Homo sapiens: one gene and its partner. Each later gene encodes a partner of the first gene's protein in a complex. Each region holds a gene or a part of one and is shown in the gene's direction. Other genes may lie near its edges.

Region 1 (3,751 bases):
TTCTGAGGTAAGGATACAGATGGTTAACGTAATGCCAGTATGTTGTACAGCTCCTGAATTTGCTCTTGTAACAGACATTTCACATGAAGAACAGCATGTATTAAAGATGATTGCTTTATGGCTGGGCGCGGTGGCTCACGCCTGTAATCCCAGCACTTTGGGAGGCTGAGGCAGACGGATCACGAGGTCAGGAGATCGAGACCATCCTGGCTAACACATTGAAACCCTGTCTCTACTAAAAATACAAAAAAATTAGCTGGACGTGGTGGCAGGCACCTGTAGTCCCAGCTACTCGGGAGGCTGAGGCAGGAGAATAGCGTGAACCTGGGAGGCGGAGCTTGCAGTGAGCCGAGATTGTGCCACTGCACTCCAGCCTGGGCGACAGAGCGAGAGTCCGTCTCAAAAAAAAAAAAGATGATTGCTTTGCAAGGGTAAAGAATAGTTCCTACCACTTCCTACCACACAGTATATTACTCATGAACTATTCGTTCTAAACTGCCGGTTCTACTTATTACATAGTAGTGTCAGTGACCAAAGAAATACTGTTTGTGTAAGTTTAATTTTTTCAAGTTAAAACATGTAATATACAGAATACTGGTACGTGGTACTTTATAGCTTTCATGACAAATTTTAAGAGATTACTTCAGCCCTGCATTTTAAGTATAGTAGGTACTTCTGTCCCTGTTCTGTAGGGGAAACTGAGGCTCAGATGTTAAAATGAGCTGGCTAAGGTCACTTAACATCTGATGTACCACTTATTTTTTAATTAGATTTTTCTTCTTCCTGGTAATTTTAATAATTTTACCCACTTGAGTTGTAATATATTTGATTATACACCATAGGTTGTTTCTTCTATTTACTGGCTAAAAAAATGTAAATTTATAAAAAACTCTCACTATCTTGCCCAGGCTGGCCTCCAGTGCTTGGGCCCTTGTCATTTTGGTGGCAAACACTTGTGAATGACTTCCTTTACATGAATGTCTTTGTTCTAAGTTTCCTATTTTCTTTAAACAAAATAATTATATAAAGCCATCTCAGATTACCATAATTTGGAGAAATCTTTATAGCAGTGCAGCTGAATTATGTATTTAATAGATATCACTTTTTTAAAAAATCCTATTTGTGGCATGAAGAACGTTGAATAGAAACATGTCTGTATGTGAGATAAGGAAATAGTTTTAAAGGAAAACCTTAGGATCTAATTATGAAAATACCTGATTAAGCTAGGATTTACAAATGAATTCTGTTGCCATAGTGTAGTTTAAAAATTTTTAGAATAATTATAAGAAAATCAGTAGGAAACTTGCTTGAGGAATAGTTCTTAGTGGGCAGCCTCCCTCCTTTTGCTGTTCCCTATTTTGATAATCTATTTTGATCTTCAAAAATCATGAAAACGGCCCTTAAAGAAATTCTCTTTTAAAAAAATGACAGGGTTACGATTAAGAAATGCTTATTTCAGGAAAGCCAAGGAGGTACTCTTGTAAGTACAAAGCCTGACCCATCATTAACAGTCTTCAAAGCCAGTCCACATTTTAATTTGCTGATGGCATGCACTTCTTGATTTACATAACATGAATAACCAAGTGTTCCAAGCCGTAACCCTTCATTAGACAAAATTTTTTAACATTTCATTTTTGGCATTCTGTTGGAGGTGAGGTGTGGCAGCTGTTTAAAAGAATGTGCGTGGTGGTATGTATGTGTTTGAGAACAAAGAGCCATACTGAAATTACAAAATGATTAAAATACAATTTAGTAACCCAAATTGGAATCTAGCTGGGATTCATGAGGGATTACTATTCTCCCTATACTTTAACAGTGAGCTTTTTTTAACAGAGTATAGGGACTCATACTTTGCCAATGATTAGTAGACTCTCAGCATAAATAGAGGAAAGAGTATTATCCTAAATGTTTACATAGGGTAATAAATAAAAACTACTAAGGTAAAAAGTTCAGTGCTTTACGTAGATAGTAAACTATGCATAGTATTTTATTTGTAACCCCATGTGTTAAGAAGGGACACTGTTAAAGTAACAATCATTTAAAAGTAACAACCAACAAACTGGTATTTAATTTGGTATTTTAAATAGTTAAAAATCAAATGGAAACAGTGTCTAAAGTCACTAAGATAATTCATAACAAAACCCATTAATCCAAGCTCCACTTATTGTAAATAGAATTCACCATGAGCTAACCTAAAATGTACCTGTGGAGATAAAACAAGAGTGTAAGTTAGCAAAGTATTAAATAAAATTTCAGGGAGCCCCTAAATTTATTTTTAAGAACTTTAGAACTAATTCTCTATATGCAAACACTGATTAACTCAAATATCTTGTAAGTTCATTCATACATGGCCTTATTTGAGGCAGTGTATTTGTATTCACTAGCAAAATTCATGTCAGTAAAATATTTTTGAAGCAGTTTATTTCCCAGATATTTCACTAGTTTGAAATAGTCATTTCAGTGATTAGTCTGAATTTCTATTGAAGCCTAAGCTTTGAATGAAGACATGCTTCTGAAAATAAGGCAGTTTTTCTCTAGTCTGCTTATCAATAGAAAACAAATCTTTGGTTTTTAGTTAAAGTGACAGGAAGGATTTTTGCAAAAAGAAAAACTAAAGAACCAAAGCAATTAAAAAGCTCTTGATAAGCAATGGGGAACTCCAAACCCATCAAGGTCAGTAGAGTACCTAAGGCACCTCAGCTTCAGATGTGACAGTCATCTTTGCTTAGAGTTCTGATAATCTATATACATGATTTTTACCATCTTGAGAATGTGAAGCTGAAAAGGTAACATCCAACAATGATTACTGTGAATAAGAAAATTACTGTGATAAATGGGAGAGACGTTGGAGATCTCTGTTCTACCTCCCATATTTATAATGAGGAAACCAAATCCCAGTCAAGAAACAGGTGACACCAGTTTGTGTAGACAAATTCCTAATCTGTTTCTGTTAGGGCAGGGCAAATTCTAGACTTCTAACTTTGAATTAGTAAACCAAGTGTGAAGGGTTTCAGAGATATGAATTGGAGCCCCCTCCCCCCACCAAAAAAAATCCTCATAAATCCCCAAAGGCAAGTTGGAAATGTGTAATAGTTTACTGTTGTAATTCGTTTATACCATGTGTTGGACAACTCAGCTAATATGTTAATTGATTTATACAATTCCTTTCAATTTTATCTAAAAATAAGCAGACCAAAATTAAATAAGAAAGTTACATAAGATTCCATTTGAGCATACATAAGGCCATGATACTTTAATGTGAACCACCATTTCTTGGAAGAAAGAAGACATCCAAATGTCCGATTCAGAGAGAAAGTTCCTGGCCAGTCATCCAGTAGACTCTCTCCACTCTTCAATGGGAAGGTGATGCTTATATTTTTAAAAATCTCTACAAAGCTCACATACAACAAGACAGTACATCCTAGATTTGTGACTGATATGAGCATTTAAGGCTGTCATTTTCAAGTATAAAAGTTTAGTGTTCCATTACCCAATCTGTGCAGTAGACATAGCTATAAGCTCAAGTCATGTGAATTAACAGAAGCCCACCAAAGACATTTAAAAAATTATAATTTGGGCAACAGCAAGTTTAAATGTAGGAAAGGCTAGAAAAAATGTGATGAGATTGTTTCTCTAAAATGCATTAGGTTGTTCACAATGAAGCTTTGTCTAACACCATTATCTGATGCATCCATTATCTGATGCATGGCATATGCAATAAGGCAGATCCACAGCAGACCAAACAAGGAAG
Region 2 (3,751 bases), on another chromosome or scaffold:
ATAAACACCAGCTGGTTGTTAATGTTATCTTTAGTCATTTAAAAAGAATTTGCAAGACAAAATTCCAAATCAATTTTCTTACCTAGTGATGGGGCTCAAGCTGAAGACGGCTATCTGTCGATGCAGAAGCAGGCAGGCTTGCCTTCCTTGATGAAGCGAGTGGGAACTCCCAAAAAAGGAGTTTTTTAACAGCAAATAAACCTCAGACCCCCCACCGAAAAACGTTGGAAGATCAGGGATCCCTGGAGGAACAAGGTCCCAGATTTCAGCAATCATCCTACCAGTTTGGGCAATAAGGTGCCAAGCCAATACCGAGGATCAATAGGCGAACTGCTGCAGGCCGGGTTACCTTCACTGAGGATCTCTCAGTGCTTATCAATGTCAATCGAGAAAAATGACAAGTCTTAATCATTTCAGGAGGCTTATTTCCCAAAGTTAAGGACGCCCATGACACAGCCTCCGGAGATCCTGACGACGTGGGTCCAAGGTGGTCGGGGCACAGCTTGGTTGTATTCATTTTAGGGAGTCACGAGATATCAATCATATGTATAATAACAGGCCGGACAGGGCGCGGTGTCTCACGCCTGTAATCCCAGCTCTTTGGGAGACAGAGGCGGGCGGATCACGAGGTCAGGAGATTGAGACCATCCTGGCTAACATGGTGAAACCCGTCACTACTAAAAAATACAAAAAAAAAAAAAAAATTTGACGGGCGTGGCGGCGGGCGCCTGTAGTCCCAGCTACACGGGAGGCTGCGGTAGGAAAATGGCGTGAACCCGGGAGGCGGAGCTTGCAGTGAGCGGAGATGGTGCCACTGCACTCCAGGCTGGGCGACAGAGCGAGACTCCGTCTCAAAAACAAACCAACAAAAAAAAAACAGGCCGGGCGCGGTGGCTCATGCCTGTAAATCCCAGCACTCTGGGAGGCCGAGGCGGGCGGATCACGAGGTCAGGAGTTCAAGAACAGCCTGACCAACATGGTGAAACCCCGTCTCAACTAAAAATACAAAAATTAGCCGTGCGTGGTGGCACGCACCTGTAATCCCAGCTACTCAGGAGGCTGAGGCAGGAGAATTGCTTGAACCCGGGAGGCAGAGGTTGCAGTGATCTGAGATCACGCCACTGCATTCCAGCCTGGGCGACAGAGTGAGATTTCATCTGAAAAGAAAAAGAAAAAAAAAAAAAAAAAAAAAAAAAGAAGGACATTGGTTCTGTCCAGAAAGGCGGGGGCAACTTGGAACAGGGAGGGGGCTTCCAGGTCACAGGTAGGTGACAGACAAATGGTTGCAGTTTCTGGGTTTCTGATAAGCCTCTCCAAAGGAGGCTATCAATATGCATTTATCTCAGTGAGCAGAGGAATGACTTTGAATAGAATGGGAGGCAGGTTTGTCCTGAGCAGTTCCGAGCTTGTCTTTTCCCTTAGTTTAGTAATTTTGGGGCCCCAAGATTTTCCTTTCAGAAAAAAGAAAATGTGGTATATATACACAATGGAGTACTATTCAGCTCTAATAAAAGAATGAAACCCTATCATTTGCCACAACACGGATAAACCTGAGGATATCATGTAAGCAAAATAAGACACAGAAAGACAAATACCTCATGATCTCACTCATGTGGCATCTTTAAAACGAAGTTAATCATTAAGATATTTACCAGTTGTCTGAGGTATTGGGTTGAATTTTCTTTTTTTTTTTTTTTTTGAGACGCAGTCTCGCTCTGTTGCCAGGCAGAAGTGCAGTGGCGCGATCTCGGCTCACTGCAACCTCCGCCTCCCAGGTTCAAGCGATTCTCCTGCCTCGGCCTCCCGAGTAGCTGGGACGACAGGCACCCGCCATCACGCCCCGCTAATTTTTTGTATTTTTAGTTGAGACGGGGTTTCACCATGTTGGCCAGGATAGTCTCGATCTCCTGACCTCGTGATCCGCCCGCCTCGGCCTCCCAAAGTACTGGGATTAAAGGCGTGAGCCACTGCACCCTGCCTTCCAAATTAAAAACTTTTTAAAACCTCGTACCTCGCCGTGGGCGGCGACCGTCGCGGACTCGCCGGGAAGACGGCCCCACGGAGCCGGGAACACCGCCCGCTGTTCGTATGTCCGAGGTGACGCCCCGCTGTGGCGGGCTGGCGGAAGTGACGCGCTGCTGTGGCGCGCCGGCGGACGTGACGCCACTGTCGCTGCGACGATAAGGCCTGGCGTTATTGCTTAGAGGCGGCTACCTGGAGCCGGAAGCGCGGCTGCAGCAGGGCGAGGCTCCAGGTGGGGTCGGTTCCGCATCCAGCCTAGCGTGTCCACGATGCGGCTGGGCTCCGGGACTTTCGCTACCTGTTGCGTAGCGATCGAGGTGCTAGGGATCGCGGTCTTCCTTCGGGGATTCTTCCCGGCTCCCGTTCGTTCCTCTGCCAGAGCGGAACACGGAGCGGAGCCCCCAGCGCCCGAACCCTCGGCTGGTACGGACCCCTCCCCGGCGTCTCCGCTCCCCTGACCCCACATCCCCTAGAAGACCTTTTTTCTGAGCCTCGCTGCTCGGATTTCTTCTCGGCGCTCCCCGGTGGTCTCTTCCATTATGGTCCCCACCTCAGAAATTTTTTTTAACCGCTCCAGCGTCTCTTTTCTGTATTCTTACAACTTTGTGGCAACCACCTCTACTGGCCCCACTTCGACCTTCCTTCCTGATCACCACAAAGTAAGCTGTGTCCATACCTGGGATCCAGCCTCTCCACTTCTACTCGTCCAGAGCTCCCGCCCCTTTCCTGAGCAGCCTTTGGGTCACTCCCCGTTATAGGCGCCCTTTTTGCCCCCTAGCACACAACAGATAAGACCCCTGCCGATCCCCTCGCGTTTTGGTCTCTTATATTCCTCCAAGATGTTTTCCCTGCCTAGGGGCTAAGGCCTCTCTGCGTTAGGCCTCTTCCTAGGCTTCACCTACCCAGCCATATACAGCAAGTAAAGGCGCCCTGGTTCTGGACCACTTGCACACATCGCCAGCCGCTGACCATGTAAACGCAGTATGTAAACGCCCAGCCATCCCGTAGCTGCAGCTCTGCGTTTTAGGTCAAGCTCCCTAAATGTCCCATTCCAGGACCCTTACGTAGGGATTCTCCTACCCCAGTACTCTTCACCATACTGAGGATAATTCACTGCTTGCTACTGTGGGTCCCTAAGATTACTCCTGTTAACCCCCGTCCTTTCCCCCCAGCACTACCTACCAAGTACAAGTCGCCTCCTTTTGGGTTGGGTTATGTAGATATCGCAGGGTATGTGCTGGAGAAGTAGGTAGAAGCTAGATTGTGAAGGTGCTTGATGCTAAGGAAAGTTTAGAGTTCAATTTCCTTTTTTTTCTTTCAAACACTTAGGAGCCAGTTCTAACTGGACCACGCTGCCACCACCTCTCTTCAGTAAAGTTGTTATTGTTCTGATAGATGCCTTGAGAGATGATTTTGTGTTTGGGTCAAAGGGTGTGAAATTTATGCCCTACACAACTTACCTTGTGGAAAAAGGAGCATCTCACAGTTTTGTGGCTGAAGCAAAGCCACCTACAGTTACTATGCCTCGAATCAAGGTAAGTTTGCCTTAATGTTTTATGAATCATGGTTTGGCTGTTTTGAAGATTTAGAGGGGGTCTCTGTAGTCTTTCGCTTGGAGTTGCAATTTTAAGAAAGTGGAAATTTTGTGCTGTCAGTTGGCTGGGGCAATAGAATGTTGAAGGAGCCTCACACGGGATGGAACTGAGACCCATCATTTGTGCCCCATGTC

What was found. The genes of interacting proteins can lie anywhere in the genome.
Region 2: PIGF (region 1) and PIGG share a complex: the UniProt entries of both Homo sapiens proteins name them as parts of the ethanolamine phosphate transferase 2 complex.

What each region holds. Positions count from the first base shown.
Region 1 is NC_000002.12:46,582,442-46,586,192, reverse strand, and holds part of PIGF (GPI ethanolamine phosphate transferase, stabilizing subunit), read left to right. Parts: intron 1-1,504; exon of another isoform or gene 1,505-3,751.
Region 2 is NC_000004.12:497,045-500,795, forward strand, and holds the start of PIGG (GPI ethanolamine phosphate transferase 2, catalytic subunit), read left to right. Parts: upstream 1-2,165; 5' UTR 2,166-2,291; coding exon 2,292-2,445; exon of another isoform or gene 2,446-3,003; intron 3,004-3,351; coding exon 3,352-3,557; intron 3,558-3,751.